4 linked regions of the Homo sapiens genome follow. The gene in region 3 interacts genetically with the main gene of each other region. Each region holds a gene or a part of one and is shown on either strand. Other genes may lie near its edges. The genes, in order: CDK12, MTERF3, ATXN10 and UBA2.

Region 1 (6,086 bases), on a different chromosome or scaffold from region 3:
TTGAATCCAGGAGATGGAGGTTGCAGTGAGCCGAGATCACGCCACTGCACTCCAGCCTGGGCGACAGAGCGAGACTCCGTCTCGGAAAAAACAAAAAAGGCTGGGAGCAGTAGCTCACATCTGTAATCCCGGCACCTTGGGAGGCCAAGGCGGGCGGATCACCTGAGGCCAGGAGTTCAAGATCAGCCCGGCCAACGTGATGAAACCCTGTCTCTACTAAAAATACAAAAATTAGCCGGGCATGGTGGCGTAATTCCAGCTACTTGGGAGGCTGAGGCAGGAGAATTGCTTGAAACTGGGAGGCGGAGATTGCAGTGAGCCAATATCACACCACTGCACTCCAGCCTGGATGCGAAGAGTGAAACTCCGTCTCAAAACACACAAACAAACAAACAGGCCAGGCACGGTGGCTCACACCTGTGATCCCAGCACTTTGAGAGGCCAAGATGGGCAGGAGTTCAAGACCAGCCTGGCCAACATGGTGAAACCCCATCTCTACTAAAAATACAAAAAAATGGCCAGGCACTGTGGCTCATGCCTGTAATCCCAGCACTTTGGGAGGCCGAGGTGGGCAGATCACCTGAGGTCGGGAGTTCGAGACCAACCTGACCAACATGGAGAAACTCTGTCTCTACTAAAAACACAAAATTAGCTGGGCATGGTGGCACGTGCCTGTAATTTCAGCTTGGGAAGGCTGAGGCAGGTGAATCGCTTGAACCTGGGAAGCAGAGGTTGCGGCGAGCTGAGATTGCGCCATTGTACTCCAGCCTGGGGAACAAGAGCGAAACTCCATCTCAAAAAACAAAACAAAATGAAACAAAAATACAAAAAAATTAGCCGGGTGTGGTGGCAGGCACCTGTAATCCTAGCTACTTGCAAGGCTAAGGCAGGAGAATCGCTAGAACCCGGGAGGTGGAGGAGGCAGAGCAAGATTCCATCTCAAAACAACAACAACAACAACAACAACAAAAACACGCTGGACGCAGTGGCTTACGCCTGTAATCCCAGCACTTTCGGAGGCCAGGGTGGGTCACCTGAGGTCAGGAGTTCGAGACCAGCTGGGCCAGCAAGGTGTAACCCCGTCTCTACTAAAAATACAAAAATTAGCTGGGTGTGGTGGTGTGTGTCTGTAGTCCCAGCTACTCGGGAGGCTGAGGCAGGAGAATCGCTTGAACCCTGCAGAGGTTGCAGTGAGCTGAGTTGCACCACTGCATTCCAGCCTGGGCGACAGAGACTCCATCTCAAAAATAAATAAATAAATAAATAAACCAACCCACAAAAATCTAAAAGGAATACTTTCAAAGAGGCTCTACACAACAATATTCTGGGATGGAGATCCAGGGACAAAAGAAGATAGCTTGAGTCAAATTAGAACAAGTATCAAAGCTAAATCTATTACTTATATAAAGAAAAAAACAACAAAGATAAAACAAAAAAAACAAACCTCAACCATAATACTCAAAGACACCTCTTCATTTGGGTCTTACTGGGCATCTGTGGTTCTTTTATGAGTTTCTCATCGTCTAAGGCCCAGGGAAAGATTTAGGGTCACAACATGGCTACCAGCACTTACTCTGGAGGAGCCATTTTGCTGAGTTCGACATCTTTAAGGAAGTCGCTCTGTAGGGTCTGTTCAGCTGTGCACCGCTTACTAGGATCTAGTGTCAGCATGTGGTCCAATAAATCAAGTGCTGCAGAAGGAATGCTATGGAAAAGAACACAGAAAGGACAAGTTCACAATGACCCTACAGTTCTCAAATTTGTAATTTTGTTTCAAAGGGTCTCACACCTGTAATTCCAGCACTTTGGGAGGCCAAGGTAGGACTGCGTGAGGCCAGAAGTTTGAGATCAACCTGGGCAACATACTGAAACCTCATGTCTACAAATATATATATATTTTTAATTAGCTGGGTGCAATGCTGTGCACCCTGTAGTCTCAGCTATTTGGGAGGCTGACATTGGAAAATCACTTGAGCCTAGGAATTTGAGGCTGCAATGAGTTCTTACTGCACAACTGCATTGCAGCCTGGGCAACAGAGCAAGAGCCCATCTCTTTTTAAAAAAAAAAAAAAAAAGGATGTGCAATGGTGGCTCATGCCTACAGTCCCACACAGCACTTTGGGAGGCTGAAGCGGGTGGATCGTTTGAGGCCAGGAGTTCAGGACCAGCCTGGCCAACATAGTGAAACCCCATTAGCCAGGCATGGTGATGCACGCCTGTAATTCTAGCTCCTTGGAGGGCTGAGAATCGCTTGGACCCAGGAGGCGGAGGTTGCAGTGAGCCAAGATCACACTGCTGCACTCCTCCAGCCTAGGTGACAGAGTGAGACGGTCTCAAAAAAAAAAAAAAAAAAAAAAAAAAAGTCTTTGAATTTCCATGTAAAACCAAAGAAAGCAAGCTGGAGGTTGGCTAACACAAGCAAGCAGATTTGCTCCCACACAGGATTTAAGAAATGCTGGGCCGGGCACAGTAGCTCATGCCTGTAATCCCAGCACTTTGTGGGGCCGAGGCGGGCAGATAATCTGAGGTCAGGAGTTCGAGACCAGCCTGGCTAACATGGTGAAACCCCGTTTCTACTAAAAATACAAAAAATTAGCTGGGTGTGGTGGCACGTGCCAGTAATCCTTGCTACTCAGGAGGCTAAGGCAGGAGAATCACTTAAACCCAGGAGGCGGAGGTTGCAGTGAGCCGAGATGATGCCACTGCACTCTGGCTTGGGCAACAAGAGCGAAACCCCATCTCAAAAACAAACAAACGAGAAATGCTGTGCTATAACACAAGTAAAAAATATGGCCAATTCTGGCTAGGTGTGGTGGGCTTACACCTATAATCCCAGCTCTTTGGGAGGCTGAGGTGGGCAGATCACTTGAGGTCAGGAGTTCAAGACCAGCCTGGCCAACATGGTGAAATGCCATCTCTACTAAAAATACAAAAATTAACTGTGCATGGTGGCGGGTGCCTGTAATTCCAGCTACTTGGAAGGCTGAGGCAGGAGAATTCCTTGAACCTGGGAGACGAAGGTTGTGGTGAGCCAAGATCGCGTCACTGCACTCCAACCTGGGTGACACACACAAAAATATGGCCAGTTCTATCCATCTATTAAAGTTAAAAAAAGTAAAATAAAATAACAGAGAGGGAAAAAAGTAAGAAGAAAACAAAACCAAAACATGGCCAGGCGTGGTAGCACGAGTGATCTTCCTGCCTCAGCCTCTCAAAGTTTAAGCCCAGCAATTTGGGGGGCTGAGGCAGGAAGAGCACTTGAGCCCAGGAGCTCAAGACCAGCCTGGGCAACATTAGGAGACCCTATCTCTACACGGAAAAAAAAAAAATGCCAGGTGTGGTGGCGGGTGCCTGTGGTCCCAGCTATTCAGAAGGCTAAGGTGGGGCCGGACTCAGAGGCTCACGCCTATAATCCCAGCACTTTGGAAGGCAGAGGTGGGTGGATCACAAAGTCAGGAGTTCAAGACCAGCCTGGCCAACATGCTGAAACCCTGTCTCTACTAAAAATACAAAAATTAGCTGGGTGCAGTGGCAGAGGCCTCTAATCCCAACTACATTGGGAGGCTGAGGCAGGAGAATCACTTGAACTTGGGGGGCAGAGGTTGCAGTGAGCCAAGATCATGCCACTGCACTCCAGCCTAAGTGGCAAAGTGAGACTCTGTCTCAAAAAAAAAAAAAAAAAATGAAGGCTAAGGTGGGAGGATTGCTTGAGCCCAGCAGGTCAAGGCTGCAGTGAGCCCTAAACGTGCCACTGCACTCCAGCCTGGACAACACAGCAAGACCCTGTCTCAATTTAAAAAACAAACAAACAAAACCCATGAAGCCAACAATTCCATTCTCTTTTTCTCATGGAAAGATCAAGAAGGCTATGAGAAAATTTATATATTGTTCAAAATAAAATGGTTTTCTATTGTCTAAAGCCTTCAGAAGAGAAAATTACAAAAGGGCTATGATAAAACTCATATACTGTTCGAAACTAAAATGTTTTCCTACACTGTGTTGCCATGATAAACTGGGACAACATTAACTACCCAGACCAGGAAAAAGCCAAGTCCCAACACCAGCCAGACACAGAAACGAGATGTTCATTTTCCCCAAACTCACAAAGAGAATTCTTCTCGTAGACGCCTTCGATATTGCTTCTTCGGTTTCATGGTGTTGAAGTAGGGCAGTTTGATAACATCAGGCCACACAGCTGGACAAGGGCTACCACAAAGTCGGCTGAAAACAAAGCAAAAGCAAGAACAATGGAGTGAGTGAGTCAACATCATGAATTCCGGAGGTTTCAGAAGCAGAAATTATTACCTCCTGAGGTCTGGGGAATCTTTGGTTATTACATTACAGGGCATGCAGAAAGGAAAATATGACATTACTGCTTTAAGGGCAGAAAGGCAGAGAACAGAAAGAACTGGTTATAACAGAGGAAAGAAAAAATACTCGGATAATAATCCTAAATGATCCACATTATTTGGATTTGTGAAATGTTTTAATCCCCCCATACAGGTTTTTATTACCAGTTTTGTTCTGTTCAGTTAGTAGTAATTACAAAGGGCTAAGATGATCCTATAGTATCCCTATAGGGTAAACTGTGAGATGAGAAGAGAGTATAAGACTGAAAATTTTGAGAGATAATCAACAGTTTACCAAATAACAACAACAAAAATATCACCTTTATCACCTTTAAAAAATGTCTACATTGGCCGGGCACGGTGGCTCACGCCTGTAATCCCAGCACTTTGGGAGGCCGAGGTGGGCGGATCATGAGGTCAGGAGATCGAGACCATCCTGGCTAACATGGTGAAACCCCGTCTCTACTAAAAATACAAAAAAATGAGCCGCGTGTGGTGGTGGGCACCTGTAGTCCCAGCTACTCGGGAGGCTGAGGCAGGAGAATGGCTTGAACCTGGGAGGTGGAGCTTGCAGTGAGCCAAGATCACGCCACTGCACTCCAGCCTGGGTGACAGAGCAAGATTCCATCTCAAAAAAAAAAAAAAAAAAAAGTCTGCATTAGGCTGGTGTGGTGGCTCACGTGTGTAATCCCAGCACTTTGGGAGGTCAAGGTGGGAGGACTGTTTGAGCCCAGGAGTTCCAGCCCAGGCAACAAACATAATGAGACCCTATCTCTACAAAACAAATGAACGAAAAATAGCTGGGACTACAGGTGTAGTCCAAGCTACTCAGGAGGGTAAGGTGGGAGGATCACTTGAGTGCAGGAGTTTGAGGCTGCAGTGAACTATGATCACACCACTGCACTCCAGTCTAGGTGACAGAGCGAGACCCTGTCTAAAAAAAAAAATACAAAAAACATTAGCCTGCTATATTCTTCCCTTTAATTTTATTGAAAAAAACAAAACAAAAACAAACCCACCCAAATGCCAGCCCAATCCTGGGCTTTCCCCATATTTTCTATTATAGGTTGTATTTTATAACTATTTACATGCTATATACCTTACTAAACTCTGAATTCTTTGAAGGCGGGGACCTATTTTTTATCTCTGAATCCTAAAGTTTAATGTTAAAAGTAATCTGTTGTATAACAGGCTCAATAAATGTTTGCTGAATAAATTTAATCTCATCTGAGCTATGAATGGAAGAGCCATCCCCAAAATGGTATGCTTTTATATGAAGAGCTAATAAAAAATATGCAAAGTAAGATCTAAAAATTAGGTGAAATAAAACTTCTTTATATGTATAGCCTATGACAAAATATATGGTAAACCTGACTGAGTAAAGAGAAACTTACTTGGACATAAGAAACATAAACTCATTCAGAATGACTAGAAAGTGTTAGAAACTGGAGGATGAGAATACCTATCACACCTGGGCACTCAAGAGCACATGTACAGCTGTACCTGATCAGTTCTAGCTGAGCCAGTTCCAGATTGGCTTGAAAAATAGGCTTCTTTGTGAATAGTTCCCCAAGAATACATCTAGAAAAGGTAAAATTGAGAGGTCAGAAGAGAAATTCTTAGAGCCTATTTAAAGTGTCTCAAAAAATTTTTACATTATTGATATGTCGGATTGCAACCAAGATAAATAGCCCCAAATTTCAGTGTCTGAGTTTCCAAAGAGAAAATATTTCTTGC
Region 2 (5,440 bases), on a different chromosome or scaffold from region 3:
TTCATAATCTGTAACACCTCTCTCTCTCCCTTTTTTAAAATTTGCACTCCTCCCCTTAACTAGAATCAAAATGAAATGAATCTGACCTCTGGGAGAGCAACTAGGGAAAGTATGTCTTACCTGCCTCAAAGTAAAACTCCTAAAAACTAGAGTAAGCGGCAGCAACTTTAGAAAGGAGTCAGAAGCAGGCAAGGCTCTACAGCCAGCTACAGAAAGAAGAGACAAATGGGAGATCCGGCCAGACTTGAGCTACAGCCCTGAAGCCTGAGAGACCTGTGAGGTTCCCCGATGAGGCTCAGAGGAAGCCCTTTCAATATTATGCCTGCCTCAAGCTCTCCTCTTGGCTGTTACAGATATAATGTGAACACGGGATGCGTTCACATAACCCCTAGGCCTCTTTCCCTATATTCAAGTGGAAACAGTAACAGATCAGTTGGAAAGGACACTATGAAAAGCAATTGTTGAAAACCAAAGTACTATGAGAAGAGTGACTAAAAAAAGCACAGGGTGTACCTCAACATGGGTTTGGCTTGCTTTTGGAACAGAACATCTCCCTTCTCAGTCTCTGCTATTCTGCCCTTGTTCTGATAACTAAATTCCCATGATCACAATATTATGGATAACGAAGATGTAAGAGGTTTTAGATAGATTTTTTTTTAGAAGTATGACTCCTATGCAGTGATTCTTGGCTTAAAAAACTATCACCCGGCCGGGCGCGGTGGCTCACACCTGTAATCCCAGCACTTTGGGAGGCCAAGGTGGGCGGATCACGAAGTCAAGAGTTTGAGACCATCCTGGCCAACATGGTGAAACCTCGTCTCTACTAAAAACACAAAAATTAGCTGGGCATGGTGGCAGGCGCTTGTAGTCCCAGCTACTCAGGAGGCTGAGTCAGAAGAATCACTTGAACCCGGGAGGCGGCGGTTGCACTGAGCCGAGATCACGCCACTGCACTCCAGCCTGGCGACAGAGCCAGACTCCATCGCAAAAAAAAACAAAAAAAACAAAAAACAAAAAAAAACTATCACCCAACAACAGACAAAACCACAAATGGTTCTGGTGCTCCTAAACGATTACTAATTTCCTAAATATAATAACACTTCAAAGCATTTATTTAGCTTATGAGCAGATATTATACGTTTACTTCTCCAGTGGACCAAAGTTACTCCATCATTAGAGAGTTGTGTACTCTTTCAAGTCCAAAAGCTACTGCTCAGATTGCGGTGTTTCTCCCTTCTTTTTTTATGGATGTGGTGGTGTGGGGGGAGAGTTGTTGGCCACCAGGGGCTACTTTGCCATTGGCACAAAAATTTCATCCTATTAATGACATATTAAATTCTTCGGAGTTAAAAAAAGTGCCCCTAGCCTGAGAATTATTGGTTCCCTCTAATCCTAAGGTGGACTTCAACTTTGCCTTCACAGAAAGTCACAGAGGAAGGGGAGAGTGAAGGTTTCGGGGGATCCTGAATATAACCTCTTTCCTTAGCCTAGTGATTTCTTCACATTCATTACCCTAAAACTGCTTTTGTTATCCTTTACCTTCCAAGATCTCTTCTTTGAAATGACTAAATTGATCATAGTTATTAAGTTATACTTCTTTCCCCATTTTTAATTAATCGTAAGTCAGATCTGCCAACCAGGAATATTATCTACATGAGAAAATTAGTTCCATGCCACTGAGATTTAAACACCAGCCAAAAATGTAAAGTCTATATCAGCCCATTCACAGCCTTACTGTCCGTTAATGTATTTTTTCATTAATAAGCTTTTTATTTTTCTGTTTTTATTCCCCAATAATTCCACCTAGACTCTAGGAATCTGAGAATCCCAATTTGGAAGCCACAATTCTACAACAGAGCTTCTCTGAGGCAAGGGTTTGGGGTGCCTAAAATCTGTGTTTTTAAGTGATTTTGATGCATCTGGTCAGCTTATAATTTCTTCTATTTGGAAAGCTCCTCTCCATCTTTTAAACACCACTCCCTCTTCTACAGACAATTCAAATGTACTTCTAGCAGATCCTAGTAAAGGGCTTGGGTTTTTAAACTGGACTGTTGGAGTTCTAATCGTGGTTCTGCCCCAACCTTGTTACTTGGGTAACCTTGGACAGGTTACTTAAATCTCTTTAAGCTTAAGTTCTTTATGTGTAAAATAGGGGTAATAATAGCATCTACCTCATATGGTTGTTGTGAGAATTAACTGTGTTAATACAAATAAAGCAATAAAGATAGAGCTGGCACACAGTAAGTACTCAATTGCTGTTATTACTTCTATAATTCTCCTACCGCTTCTAAATCACTGTAGGAGCTCTGGTTAGGACTCTACCATCATATAAAGCAATTCTATTTTTAAACCTGTCTTCCACACTCGATTATAAGTTCCACAAGAACAGAGATCATGTCTGCTTGACTTTTGTATCCTCAGTGCCCAATGTGTAGCACTGATGGATGCTCAGTGATATACTGGAAAAATGAATTACCCACCAACCCAGGGAAAAACAAATTGTCATTTCTTTTTCGTTGAAGATTATTTCACAATTACTCCATGAGCCAAATTCACAAAACTGTAGGCTTCTAACACTTCTATAATGGGTATATTTACGTTTGGTAAAATAGGAAAATCCTATATTAGAGGCCCGTTCCTAGTGAAGTATAATAGGCAAATAAATATAGCTGTATGTGAAGGAACTGGACCTAATGCAGTCTAGTTCTGAGAGTTGTATTAAGGTCATATTTCTTTTACCCATCTTTTTTCAAAAACAGGAACATGTGTTCTAGCAAATGGAGTAGAGGGATCACTTAAATAAAAATTCAGTTTGTCATTTATCCAATAAATACTGAGTGGCTATTTGCATAGGAAATAGGAAAAAAGGATTACTTTGATAAAATCCAATCATTCATTTGTTCAACAAATATTAATTGTGTGCCTACTTAGTGCCAGGTGTAGTTCTAGGCACTGAGGATTTGGCAGTGTATAAATCAGACAAAGTTTCTGCTTTTAAAGAGTCAATATTCAAGATTAATATTCTTGTGAACAGCAGATAATATCACTCACTAGGTAAAGAATATGGAAGCTTGATTAGCTTAGAAAATATAATTACGGCTTTGGCATGATGGCAAACTGGATCACTTTTATATTGGGATGGGGATCATTACAATATGGCTTATTGATTCATGAATTTAAATAAACTGTGACTAAAAAGTACACGTAGCAGTGAAAGGACCTTTAAGGGAAGTGATCTATTCCAAAGTAAAGTAGAGAAAAACATGAGAGAGAAGAGAGACTACATTAGATTTGTTGGCCTGATTCCAACAATCAGAACTAGGACTAGGTAGAAACTCCAGGGAAAGAGACTAATCACTGATTTCTCCTCAGGAGATGGACATTTGCGCCCTGCAAATTGTAAACTCTTCCCAGCGTACAGAACTATGCAGCTGGAGAGCAGCTCCAAATGAAGCGCAATGGCAGCGCTTACAGAGAGAGCTGTGAGTGGCATTACCTGTGGGAACTTGACAATGATGTGGTGGGGAATGCTCATCACATTGTGCACAAAATCAAACGTCTCGGTAAGTTTCATTTTATTTGCAGTTAACATCTTTGGGATTCTGGTGATCATATGTTGAATTTCGTTATGTTTAAAACCAAGTTCAAGACGATAAACCTAAAAGAAAGTAAATTTGCTATGAATCGTTATGTAGAAATAGTTATTTTGGTACCATGGCAAGGCTGCACTGATTTTTTTTTTTTTTGAGATGGAGCTCGCTATGTTGCCCAGGATGGAGTGCAGTGGCATGATCTCCTGCCTCAGTCTCCCAAGTAACTGGAACTACAGAGGAATGCCACCACACCTGGCTAATTCTTGTATTTTTAGTACAGCCAGGGTTTCACCATGTTGGCCAGGCTGATCTTGAACTCCTGACCTCAAGTGATCCACCCACCTTGGCCTCCCGAAGTGCTTACAGGTGTGAGCCACCGCGCCTGGCCATGATTTTTTTTTTTGAGACGGAGTCTCGCTTTGTCATCCAGGCTGGAGTGCGGTGGCACGATCTCAGCTTACTGCAACCTCCGTTTCTTGGATTCAAGTGATTCTCCTGCCTCAGCCTTCTAAGTAGCTGGGATTACAGGTGCCCACCACCATGCCTGGCTAATTTTTGTATTTTTAGTAGAGATGAGGTTTCACCATGTTGGCCAGGCTGGTCTCAAACTCCTGACCTCAAGTGATCTGCCCACCTCGGCCTCCCATGCCAGGGTTACAGGCATGAGCCACCACGCCTGACCATGATTCTTTTAAACTTAAAATAACATTTTAAAATTTGGAGACAGCTATGCCAGTGCCTTCAAGGAATTACAGCTTCCGGCTCCTGGGGTCACCAGAATTTCAAACCCCTCTGCTGAGAAAGAGCTACACCATGATGGTCATGAAGCTCACCAAAGGGGCAACCATAATTACAAGAGGGAATGAGTGACATGGGAGCGCTGCAGGTCAGAGGCATGGGCCCAACACCAAACAGATCCTTCAGCAGCAGGATCTTCAAAATGCTTTTTGAGCTTTTGCTCCCAAGTACACCCACATATGTGTTGTCTGAAAAACGACATGTCAACATTCCAAGCAGAGATGAGGAACTAAACAACCAAACACAGGCCGGGTCCTCTACTTGCTTTCATAGTGTCCTGTGTGCCCCCACCAAGTAACTGCCCCCATCACTCTGGATTTGATCCCCCACTAGATTGTAAGCTCCTTGGGAGGAGAAGCTGTCTCCTCAGCATGGCGCTTGGGCAGGAGCTCAATAAAAAGATTTCTTCAATGACTGAACTGTTCACCTCAGAAAACAGCCCTTATATAATATTTCAAATACTACTACAGCTTTATATACTAACTAGTCAGCTGCTCTTGGCTTTATCTTATTCTCTTGGAGGAAGGACAGTAAAGAGTGTCTGGTACATTCTGTGACAGAATGAGAGCTGGCAATTGGGACAGGTGCAAAGGAGAACAATGTGCTGGCTGCTACTCTTTTCACAGAAGTCTTTTGGATCCAGCCTCCAAAACTCCCTGAGACATACACAGACTGTCATGCTGGCCAACAGGAGTACTTTCGTAGACTGGTAACACTGCCCAGGTAACAAAGACGTCAGACGCCCACACTGGGCAACAGAAGCAGTTTCAGGGTACCACTTATATCCCTATCTAATGCTTTAGGATTGTGGGTATCAATGTCTGCAAGGTGATTTACTCAGGTTAATACCTGCTCAACGTGAAAATATTAACTGAAACAAACTGCTTGCTAGACATTTGTTAAAGATAATTTCCTATTTCTCTTTTTAGAAATAACTTATTTTAAAGTCTAGTTTTCTTTTACATGACAATAGCAAAATCTGTTCTCTTCAGAGGATTTTAACACTTAAAGAAACTGATTTCTCAAAAAGCCTAAAGTTGTCCTACCTT
Region 3 (6,086 bases):
TGGGAGTTACTGCTTCATGTTTACAGAGTTTCTATTTGGGTGTTAAAAAAAATTTTGGAAGTAGAGGTGATAGTTGTACAACATTGTGAATATAATTAAAGCCATTGAACTGTAGACTTAAAATGAACAACATGGCAAATTTTATGTTATATATATGTATTTTACCACAGTTAAAAAAATTAATAATACAATGTACCAAAATCCATTTAATTGTACGCTTTAAGTGGGTGACTTTAGTGTGCCACGTGAACCCTATCTCAATAGTGCTGTTATAAACAAATCCATAGTAAGGTGCCTCTGCATCCCTATTAGAATGGCTATAATGAAAATGAGTGACACTGAATTTTGGTGGGCATGTGAAGCTATATATTTATGATTTTTAAAAAGTCACATTGTTTGGAGTAGAGGGGATGTGTTTAAAATGTGAACTCCTCCCTCACTGCTATTTTTGTTTCATAATAAAATAGCCTTTTATGTATCTTTTTCCCTACTCAGTAGTGCCTTTCTTGAAGGGAGGGACTTTATGGTGTTTCTTAGCAGGGTGCCTGGCCCATTTTGGGTACTCTGTAAATGTTGAACTGAACTGAATAGAGCAATGAAGAGCCAGTAGCTCCAGTGAGCCAATCAGTAATTACTCAAATTGCTAAAATGCTATTGATTAGTTTACCATGTAATTCATTCATTGACTCACACCACACATGATACATGTAAGATCTGTGCTTAGTGCTGCAGCTGTGATTGATAGGATAAAATTAACTATGTGTAGCTTACTTTGAACTACTGACATAGGAGTAGCTCACATGCTATTAAATTATTAAATTTAATACATTTGTAATTTGCTAAAAATGTATATTTGTAATTTATATTTACAAAATAAATTTGTAAATTTGTAAATATAAATGTCTTAAGCCTTCATTCCTTTGCTTATACACACTCTTCATTTTCCCTCAAGGTTGAGTTACCATTTCACTTCCTTTTGAAAGCCGTTTCTGACCTTCAGGTGCTTTTGCCCTGTATTCCCTTGGCACTCTGTGCTTACCTCTTTCAAAGAACTTCACATAATCACTTAATTACCTACCAGTCTCACTAGAGTGAGAGCAGCCCGAGGCCAGGACTCTTATTTACCTCTGTTTTCAGTACCAACTTTCAGGCCTACCACATAATGAGCATCCAATAGTATTTTTATTATTTTCTTGAACACCTGATTTTCTTGAGCCATGAGAGAGAAAATGAGAGCATACAAGAAAGACTTTAATTAGGAGGGGACAGGAAACGTTAAATATGACAGATGACTGATTTCAAGGGGTAAAAAATGACTTGGTATTGTTACTTGGTTGTATAAATATGTTGACTAACCTTCATAAAGAAAGTGAATAGATTAAGCACTTTAGAGGTCAACATACCACAGAGGTAAAAAATAAACCTATCCATCTGTGTATACACACGCACATGGATTTTCCCCGGACATTACTGAGCCTCTGGGCAGCAAGTGTCTTTAACTACACCAAAACACACAAAAACCCAAAAAACAAAAACCCACACGAGTCGTCAGCTTGGCTGAGGACGCCATATGGCGTTTTGACTCAACCATGATTCAGCTCAACTTTGTTGAGAGAGAACATCAATTAAGTTACACTATAAAAAGCATATTTTAGAGTGTGCTGGCAATTTCCTTTATTTTTACCTATGCCATGAGCTGGAATGCTACATGGAATTGTTTGGTAAGGTGTTCTGACTCAGCTTCAAAATACAGAAGTGGTCAGTGTGAGCCACCTCATACATTCAATTATCTTAAATGCATGAAGTAGACAGGAAAGAGTTTGAGCCAGCCGAAATAAATAAAACCAATCGAAATAAATAAGGTTAGGATTGTGACCACCAGTACCCTCAGAGCAGAGTTTCTCAGCTCTTTCATTCTTCCAGTCTTTTGTAGTGGTCACTGGACCCAAGGGCTTGGTCACTGGACTGTGGGCAATGACACTCAAAAGCAAAGGAACTGTGGGACTACCAGTAGGGTGAGCTGGGCCCTGTGATGGCCACAAGCTTAGAGAAGTTATTAGAGTTAACGAGATGATCCATAAGTGGGGGATGCTCTTTCATTATAGCTATTGAGGAGTTTGTGTACTGCTTAGAACAGTGTCTGGCACCTAATAGACACAGTTTAAGTGTTAGCGTTTTCGTTGTTGGTGTCATTGTCATCATCATCATCAATGAGAATATTATAAAACTATCAAAAGACATTTAAAAAGACTTAAGTGGTAAGATACACCATTGTATTATAGGAAACCTCAATAACAAAGACATCAATACCTCCCAAATTGACCTGTGGATTCAATGCCATTCATAATAAAATTGCAGCAGGGTTTTTGCTAGAAATTCACACAGATTTTCTAAGTTATATGAGAAACTCCTAGGTTTTCTCTTACTCTCTGAACTGTCATCCCTTTAAGGCTTTTTTGTTTTTTTGAGATAGGGTCTCACTGTGTCACCTAGGCTGGAGTGCAGTGGTGCCATCACAGCGCCACCATGCCCCGCTAATTAAAAATTTTTTTTTTTTTTGGTAGAGATTAGCTCTCACTATGTTTCCCAGGCTGGTCTTGAACTCCTGGGCTCAAGTGATCCTCCTGCCTCAGCCTCCCATAGTATTGCGATTACAGGTGTGAGCCACTGTTCCTGGAACCCTTTAAGGTTTTTTTACATGAATCCTCTTCTGACTCCCCAGTTCTTAAGATCCTTCTCTATGCCCTCAGCAAAATTCCCTGTATCCTGAACTTCTGTAAACATCCATTCATCTTCTTGATCTAAATGAAATATGGCTCTGAGGACATGCCTTTCCCAGGGTTCTTGAAAGTGGGAGGCTGTTTTCTCTCCTGCACTCAGTACAATGCTTGGCTCAAAGGTGTGGTAGTTCTCCTTGATTGTCATTGCTGCTTTCAGACCTTTTTCCTCCATAGACCACTCCAACTTTTAATCTCATGACATCAGAGTATCCCTTGTTTAATCACTTTTGTGGTTAAAAGAGACCTTTGGGTCAGTCTGCCTCATTCCTTGAAGAGTTTAGCCCTGGCTCACTTTTCACTCTATTTCTTCTCCTGTCTTAAATCTTCGTTATTTCATTGTTTATATAGATTTTCCTTTCATTATCCTGACCTCGAATTTCTTTGACTTTCTCTCCCTTAGTGAGCTTGACCTCCATCCCATCTCAGACACACATTGCCATACCTTACTTAGACTTTATCCATAACTGTAGCTGCCTTCCCCCACAATCTCGAGTCCCAATCCCTGTTTTATCTTCTCTTTAGGGCCCTTGCTTCATCAAGTCTTTAACCTCACCAGGACCTACAGTCTTTTGACCCTATTTCCTATTTACTACCCCTTTTGTTTTTCATTCCCCTTCTTAATGTTCACATTCCCATCTTGATCTGGCTTAGATCCATGGATGAGTAATAAGAGCATTTTTTAATGTACATCCTCAACTCCACTGCCTCCTCTCTAAACTTTGTTATGTTTGCCTGGTAAAACTCCAGCTCTGGTCAAATCCAACTTGTTACCTTTGCGACAGTACCCAAATAGCTGAACAAGGCTAGAGAAAAACATACAGCCGTGCAGACTGCTCTCACTTTAACTTGCTGATCACTAACTAACGTGGCCCTTAATGCTACCTGTCAGTCCCGCTGTTTGCCCTGGTCCCTTGACTCTCCTGCTCCCCGAGTCAGGTATTTCATGCTCCACCCTCTTCAAACCTCCATCCCATCTCCCTCATCCTCACTCTCAGCTCTCTGAAAATAGGAGCAACTAGAAGATAATTTCCAGGAACTCTCATCACCCTCTCTGCCCACCTACTTGTATCTGTGCCCGTAGCCTGCCTTTGCTTCTGGTCTGTGGATTAGCGATCTTGCTCTGAATATGAGCTCCCCTTAAGTTTGCACTAAATTCCATTGCCTTTTGCACACATTGCTCCAGCAGTCTTCTTCTCTCCCCCCTTAAAAATCATCAGTTTTACCCTTTCTATTGGATTGCACTCATCAGTTTATAGATCTGCTGTAATTTTTCCATACTAAGAAAAATCTCTCCCTCCATTTCCCTGAGTGATAATCCTTCCCGGATCTCAGAACTCAGTCCTCAGACCTCTTCTCTTTTCTGCCTATATTTACTTTCAGAGTATTCTCACTCAATCTTGTGGCTTTAATAACTTCCGTTTGCTGGTGACTAACATTTTTCTTTAGCTGGACTTCTTTGTTTTTTTTTTTGAGACAGGGTCTCGCTCTGTCACCCAGGCTGGAGTGCAGGGGCACGATCTGCAGCCCTGACCTCCCAGGCATAAGCAGTTCTTCCACCCCAGCCTCCCTTGTAGCTGAGACTACAGGCATCCACCACCACACCCGGCTATTTTTTAAATTTTTTTTGTAGAGACAGGGTCTTACCATGTTGCCCAGTCTGGTCTTGAACTCCTGGCCTCAGGTGATCCACCCACCTTGGCCTCCCAAAGTGCTGGGATTACAGGCATGAGCCACTGCACCTGGCTTAGCTAGATTTTTCTCCTGAATGCTAGACTTGTTTATTCACCTGACTACTTCACATTCTACTTGTATTTCTACTGATCCTCTCATCCACCAGATATCCTCAGAGTACTCTTGTTTCTGTAAACAATAAATACATCTTTCAATTTATGGCTCAGGCTAAAGTTTTGATGTCATCCTTCACTCCCCTTTTTTAGACACCCTCATAAGAATCCATCATCAAGTCCTATTGGCTCTATCTTTAAAATATCCAGAATTTGATTTCTGTTTACCGTATCTGCTGCTTTCCCTCTGCTCCAAAAACAGCCCCCTAACTGGTCTCCTGCTGTCGTCTCTTTCTCCCTTTAAGATTGATTCTTTACAAAGCAGCCAAAGAGATCCTTTTAACATGTAAGTCAGATGATGTCACCCCTCTGCTCAGAACCTTCCATGGGCCGGGCACGGTGGCTCACGCCTGTCATCCCAGCACTTTGGGAGGCCAAGGCAGGTGGATCACCTGAGGCCAGGAGTTTGAGACCAGCCTGGCCAACATGGTGAAACCCCATCTCTACTAAAAATACAAAAATTTGTTGGGCATGGTGGCACATGCCTGAAATTCTACCTACTTGGGAGGCTGAGGCATGAGAATTGCTTGAACTTGGGAGGCGGGGGTTGCAGTGAGCTGAGATCCTGCCTCTGCACTCCAGCCTGGGCAACAGAGCAAAACTCTGTCTCAAAAACAAAACGAAAAAAAGAACCTTCCATGGCTTCACATCAGGATAAAAGCCAGCGTCCTTCCGTGGCCTACTGTGCCTGTCCAGGGTGGCTCTGTCTTGTCTCTCTGAGTCGCACTTCTCTTTTCTCACTGGGGTTCATTGAAGCCAGCCCTGACTTCCCTGTGACGTGCTCTGTATGCCTTTGCCTCTAGTCCAAGCTCTTCTCCCAGCAAGATGCATAGTTGGCTCCCTCACCTTCTTTGGATCTGTGCTTAAATACTACTTTTAAAATAAGGTTTAAATAATATCTTATGTACAAAATCTTTCTCTAAGCATGTAAAGACATTCTCCTTATATTTTCTTCCAAAGCCTTGCAATTTTGTCTTCCATGTAATTCCTAAATCCACCTGGAGTTACTTTTTGGGTAGTGTAAGTAAGGATCCAATTCAGTTTTTTTCTTTTTAGATTAACAGTTGTTACAGCACCTCTTCGAGCACAGTCCATCTTCCCCAGGTCTTTAATGCTATTGATAGATGCCATTTACCAAGTTACCATGTATACACAGTTCTGCTCTTGGGCTGTCTTTTCCAGTGGTTGACTTTCTGCCTCTGTGCTAATTTCACCTTTTCTTAGCTTCTCTTTCATTTTCTTCTCTTTTCATGTTTTCTTAGAGACAAGGTCTCGCTGTGTCACCCAGGCCTGAGTGCAGTGTTGTGATCATAGCTCACCATAGCCTTGAACTCCTGGGTTCAAGCAGTCCTTCTGCATCAGGCTCCCAAGTAGCTGGGACTACGAGGCACAGACCATCAAGCCCAGCTAATTAAAACAAGTTTTTTTGTTTTTTTTTTTTTTGTAGAGATAGGGTCTTGCT
Region 4 (6,086 bases), on a different chromosome or scaffold from region 3:
GTTCTCTGTCTGCATTGCAGTATGAGTCTCATGACTGCTTGCCATGTGGCTACCCTCAAGAAAGCATATTGGAAGGCTGAGGGCATCAGAAATGGTGTTTCAGAGAAAACTCTAAATCTGCTGCAATTTATATTAAAACAGTATTTGAGAGTTTTGATTCTTGAACAATTAGCCTGGCTAATTTTTGCATTTTTGGTAGAGATGAGGTTTTGCCATGTTAGCCAGGCTGGTCTCAAACTCCTGACCTCAGGTGATCCGCCTGCCTTGGCCTCCCAAAGTGCTGGGATTACAGGTATGAGCCACCACGCCCGGCCAGACATTGCTTTTTATATCCTTGTTACTGTGATTCTGACACACCACTGTGTATTAAGACTGAAGGTGGCTGGGCATGGTGGCTTACGCCTGTAATCCCAGCACTTTGGGAGGCCAAGGCGGGCGGATCACCTGAGGTAAGGAGTTCGAGACCAGCCTGGCCAACATGGTGAAACCCCATCTCTACTAAAAATACAAAATTTAGCTGGGTGTGGTGGCACGCACCTGTAATCCCAGCTACTTGGGAGGCTGAGGCAAAAGAATCACTTGAACCCGGGAGGCAGAGGTTGTGGTGAGCCTAGATCACGCCATTGCACTCCAACCTGGGCAACGAGCGAAATTCCGTCTCAGACAAAAAGAAAAAAAGAAGAGACTGAGGTTAGGAATATCTGAGATAATGAAAGATGATTCATTTGATAGTTTTGAAAAGTTGTCTCAGGTGTCATGTACTTCTTCCAAGGCATAAATTCCTTAAATTGTAATTTTAAACTTGAATGTGTATCAATAAAATGGGCTGGGCGCAGTGGCTCACGCCTGTAATCCCAGCACTTTTGGGAAGCCAAGGCGGGCGAATCACATGAAGTCAGGAGTTCAAGACCAAGCTGGCCAACATGGAAAAACCCCGTCTCTACTAAAAATATGAAAATTAGCTGGGAGTGGTGGGAGATGCCTGTAATCCCAGCTCTTTGGGAGCCTGAGGCAGGAGAATTGCTTGAACCTGGGAGGCGGAGATTGCAGCCAAGATTATGCCACTGTACTCCAGCCAGGGTGACAGAGCAAGACTCCGTCTCCCCACCGCCAAAAAGAAACGTATATCAATAAAATGAAGAGTATTTGGTTTAGTAACACCTAAGATTTTTCTGTGTAGGGAGATATATCTTGAAATTAATCTTGTAGTTTACTTAATTTCAGGAGATTATAAGGATATGGCTGTATTCCCCAGACCCACTTAGTTTTGCTCAAAAAAAAAAAAAAAACACATATAAGAAAATGGCTGCGAATAATATTTAGATAACATTTACAACTTTGAGAAATAATTTCTTGGAAAGCTGCTGTTTGTCTTTCCAGTAGTTTTTCTGTTTAGTGTGATCAAGGTAAACTCATATTTGACACTCAGGTGTAGTAATTTTTATTTGGGCTTGTAAGTCATGTTCACTGAACCAGGAGTCGGCGTCCTGGCACAGCCTTAGCTATGACTGGTAGATTCAGTTAGCTTTTGTGTTAGTTTATCATAAAGTAAGCATTTTGGAGTCACTAATATTTTAAAATTTCCTTGACAACGTAAAACGTAGTTGGAATATAGATGAATGAAGTGTTTATATTACCTTATAATGTTGAGAAACTGCCATCATGGAGTAAATTTTTCTCATATCCTGACTTCATAGGGTGTGACCGAGTGTTATGAGTGTCATCCTAAGCCGACCCAGAGAACCTTTCCTGGCTGTACAATTCGTAACACACCTTCAGAACCTATACATTGCATCGTTTGGGCAAAGTACTTGTTCAAGTAAGAGTGTATATTTCTTGGCATGCTTTTCGGTACTGATGATGGAAAATGGAGTCATTTTTATTTAATTACCTTGAAGAGATTGAACTCAGGATGTTTAAATATGGTGAAGGGATGCTTTAGTAGCTTTCTTGCAGTATTTCTTAGGTTAAATGTAGCTGGCCGGGTGCGGTGGCTCACACCTGTAATCCCGGCACTTTGGGAAACTGAGGTGGTCGGATCACCTGAGCGCAGGAGTTTGAGACCAGCGTGGCCAGCATGGTGAAACACATCTCTACTAAAAATACAAAAATTAGTTGGCCGTGATGGCGAGTGCCTGTAATCCCAGCTACTCGGGAGGCTGAGGCAAGAGAATTGCTTGAACCCAGGAGGTGGAGGTTGGAGTGAGCCGAGATCGCGCCACTGCACTCCAGCTTGGCAACAGAGTGAGAATTTGTCTCAAAAAAAAAAAAAAAAAATGTGGCCATGACTGTTCAGGAAACTTAGTCTTATATTGGAGACAGCCATGTAACTAAGCGATAAAAATCTTTATATTTGGAAATGTGAACATTTACTTACAAATAACCCATTGGTTATAAAAGAAATCACAATGGAAGTTAAAAATACTCTGTACTGATAATGATGAAAATGCTATACCAGAATGTATTGAATGTGGTGGTTGGCAAAAAGTTACAGATTTACATACATGAAGAAAGGCTGAACATTAATTACTAAATCTTTACTAAGAATCCAATTTAAGTTAGAAAATGAACCACAGAATACACTTTAAGAAATGAGAATGGTGTGGGCATGGTGGCTCATGCCTCTAATCCCAGCACTGTGGGAGGGTGAGATGGGAGGATCCCTTGAGCCCAGGAGTTTGAGACCAGCCTGGGAAACATGGCAAAACCGTGTCTCTACAAAAAATAGAAAAATGAGCCAGGTGTACCTGTACTCCCAGCTACTTGGGAGGCCGAGGTAGGAGGATCAGTTGAGCCTGGGAGGTTGAGGCTGCAGTGAACCGAGATAGTGCCACTGCACTCCAGCCTGGGTGATAGTGAGATCCTGTCTTAAAATGAAGAAAGAAAGAAAAAAAGAATGAGAAGGAAGGATATTAATTGAAGTAAGAGCACATTTGATTACAAAATAGAAGAGGAGTAAGTGAGAACTAAACGGGGAATACAGATAGCAGAGATTAAATAGGCTATAAGAAAAAAAAGGGATGATAATAAGACCATGGTAGTACATAAAAAATTTAAATGATCTGGGTAAATACATTTTTAAAAACTTACTAAGTGCCCAGTGCGGTGGCTCAGGCCTGCAATCCCAGCACTTTGGGAGGCTGAGGTGGGTGGGTCACTTGAGGCCAGGAGTTTGAGAACAGCCTGGCCAACATGGCGAAACCCCGTCTCTACTATAAATACAAAAATTAACCAGGCGTGGTGGTGGGCATCTGTAGTCCCAGCTACTTGGGAGACTGAGCCATGAGAATCACTTGAACCCAGTGGGTGGAGATTGGGCCACTGCACTCCAGCCTGGGGGACAGCATGAGATGATGTTTCAAAAAAAAAAAAAAAATGAAAGGAAAATAGAATGCCTGAATTTAGCAGTATACCTTAGAGCAATGTAAGTAGTTTAAATTATTCTAAATAATGCACCGAACCTATGTTATTTTTACAGATTCATTTCACAAAACTTGCAAGGAGTATATTGTAATATTAGCTAAACTCTCCCTGAGAAATTTTTAAAAGGGAATACTACTTAGCTTGTGTTATTAGGCTAGCAATGTCTTTGATAGCAAAACCTGTCAAGGCCATTATGGCATAAGAAACAATTGCTAGTCAGTCTCACACCTAAATAATAGATGCAAAAATCCTATGTAAAATATTAGCATATCCTGGGAATGGGCGCAGTGTATCATGCCTGTAATCTCAGCACTTGGAAGCTGAAGCGGGTGGATCACCTGAGGTCAGGAGTTCAAGACCAACTTGGCCAATATGGCGAAATCCTGTCTCTATTAAAAATACAAAATTAGCCGGACATGGTGGTGGGCGCCTATAATCCCAGCTACTTGGGAGGCTGAGGCAGGAGAATTGCTTGAACCCGGGAGGTGGAGGCTGCAGTGAGCCGAGATCGCTCTGCTGCGCTCCAGCCTGGGCAACAGAGCAAGACTCCATCTCAAAAAAAAAAAAAAAAAAATTACCATATGGATCTAGAATCATATAAAATAAAAAGTGTGTCTTGACCACGTGTCTATTCAGGAATACAAGCATGGTTTAAACTAGAAAATCTGTAAATGTCATTCACTCATTAGGAAATTAAAGATAAACTATATAGTTTTCATAGATACAGAGAAAGCATTTGGTAAAATTTAGCAAATGGCCTTTCATGATGAAAGTTTCTACTAAAACAGAATAAAAACTTACTAGGCCGGGCGAGGTGGCTCACGCCTGTAATCCCAGCACTTTGGGAGGCTGAGGCGAGCGGATCACGAGGTCAGGAGATCGAGACCATCCTGGCTAACACGGTGAAACCCCATCTCTACTACAAATAAAAAAAATTAGCCGGATGTGGTGGTGGGTGCCTGTAGTCCCAGCTGCTCAGGAGGCTGAGGCAGGAGAATGGCGTGAACCCGGGAGGCGGAGGTTGCAGTGAGCTGAGATTGCACCACTGCACTCCAGCCTGGGCGACAGAGCGATACTCCGTCTCAAAAAAATAAAAAATAAATAAATAGATAAAATTAAAAATAAAAAAACTTCTTACTAAAATGAGAATGTTCTCAACCCGATAAAGGGTATTTTGTAGAAACCTTCAGCAAACATTGTCTTTAATTTTTGCACTCAGAAAAGTATACATAACAGTGTCAACTTGATAAATGTTCACAAAAACTACACTTGGAAGCTTTATTTATTTGGCAAACATTTTTTTTCTTTGGGAGGCTGAGGTGGGTGAATCACTTGAGGCCAGGAGTTTGAGAACTGCCTGGGCAACATGGCGAAACCCTGTCTCTACTAAAAATACAAAAATTAGTGGGGTGTGGTGGCACACGCCTGTAGTCCCACCTACTCGGGAGGCTGAGCCATGAGAGCCGCTTGAACCTGGGAGGCGGAGGTTGAAGTGAATGGAGATCATGCTACTGCACTCCAACCTGGGGGACAGAGCGAGACTGTGTCTCAGAAAAAGACAAAAAAAAAAAAAAGATAATGTGGCCAGGTGCAGTGACACACACCTGTAATCCCGGCTCTTTAGGAGGCCAAGGCAGGAGGATTGCTTGAGCCCAGCAGTTTGAGAGCAGTGTGGGCAACATAGTGAAACCCCATCACTACAAAAAATTTAAAAATTAGCAAGGCATGGTGGCACATGCCTGTGGTCCCAGCTACTTGGGAGGCTGAGGTGAGAGGATCACTTGAGCCTAGGAGGTCGAGGCTGCAGTGAGCTGTGATCACACCACTGCACACTAGCCTTGGGGACAGTAAGACCCTGTCACACACACAAAAAAGATAATCTGGCAAAATTAATATGAGCAGCATTTTTCACTCGAAGGGAAACCTAAATAAGCAATAAGCAAGTTATGTTTTAATCATAAGACTTACTTGGAAAATTAAGTATAAGACCATAGTAAGCTACAGATGCTTCTCAGATACTTCCCGATAAACTCATCATAAATAAAAAATACCATTAAGTAAAAAATGATGCTTTTTTTGTTGTTGTTTTTTTGAGATGGAGTTTCGCTCTTGTTGCCCAGGCTGGAGTGCAGTGCAACTGCAATCTCTGCCTCCTGGGTTCAAGCGATTCTCCTGCTCAGCCTCTCGAGTGGCTGGGATTACAGGCGTCTGCCACCACGCCCAGCTAATATTTGTATTTTAGTAGATACAGGGTTTCACCTTGTTGGCCAGGCTGGTCTCAAACTCCTGACTTCGGTTGATCCACCCGCCTCGGCCTCCCAAAGTGTTGGGATTACACATGTGAGCCACCACGCCCAGCCAAAAATGCATTTTAATATAACCTCAATAAACCTGTTGTAAAGGTGAAAAATCATTGGTGGACCATTTTAAATTAGCGGCTGTCTACTATTTTGCACTCACTAGTTGGCAAAGCGTTAATTTTAGGAAGTGTTAACATGCCATTGTTGGGAGTGACTATCAGAGCTTTGAAATTATAGTTGGGTGGGGGGTTGTACAAAGGATTTCTGTAAGATAACTTTCATTAATCATATACTTGAGGAAATACTGGAAACTTTTATATCCATGAGTTATTAAACAGTTTTTAGGATAACTTTATTAATAAA

What was found.
Region 1: changes in ATXN10 (region 3) and CDK12 together harm fitness less than expected from each alone (positive genetic interaction), as found in Homo sapiens cells (one large-scale study listed by BioGRID).
Region 2: changes in ATXN10 (region 3) and MTERF3 together harm fitness less than expected from each alone (positive genetic interaction), as found in Homo sapiens cells (one large-scale study listed by BioGRID).
Region 4: changes in ATXN10 (region 3) and UBA2 together harm fitness less than expected from each alone (positive genetic interaction), as found in Homo sapiens cells (one large-scale study listed by BioGRID).

The regions. Positions count from the first base shown.
Region 1 is NC_000017.11:39,515,575-39,521,660, reverse strand, and holds part of CDK12 (cyclin-dependent kinase 12), read right to left. Parts: intron 5,931-6,086; coding exon 5,853-5,930; intron 4,222-5,852; coding exon 4,105-4,221; intron 1,706-4,104; coding exon 1,574-1,705; intron 1-1,573. UniProt on the Homo sapiens protein: Cyclin-dependent kinase that phosphorylates the C-terminal domain (CTD) of the large subunit of RNA polymerase II (POLR2A), thereby acting as a key regulator of transcription elongation.
Region 2 is NC_000008.11:96,240,423-96,245,862, forward strand, and holds part of MTERF3 (transcription termination factor 3, mitochondrial isoform 1 precursor), read right to left. Parts: coding exon 5,438-5,440; intron 3,659-5,437; coding exon 3,497-3,658; intron 1-3,496.
Region 3 is NC_000022.11:45,678,085-45,684,170, forward strand, and holds part of ATXN10 (ataxin-10), read left to right. Parts: intron 1-6,086. UniProt on the Homo sapiens protein: May play a role in the regulation of cytokinesis. May play a role in signaling by stimulating protein glycosylation. Induces neuritogenesis by activating the Ras-MAP kinase pathway and is necessary for the survival of cerebellar neurons.
Region 4 is NC_000019.10:34,436,948-34,443,033, forward strand, and holds part of UBA2 (SUMO-activating enzyme subunit 2), read left to right. Parts: intron 1-1,697; coding exon 1,698-1,819; intron 1,820-6,086. UniProt on the Homo sapiens protein: The heterodimer acts as an E1 ligase for SUMO1, SUMO2, SUMO3, and probably SUMO4. It mediates ATP-dependent activation of SUMO proteins followed by formation of a thioester bond between a SUMO protein and a conserved active site cysteine residue on UBA2/SAE2.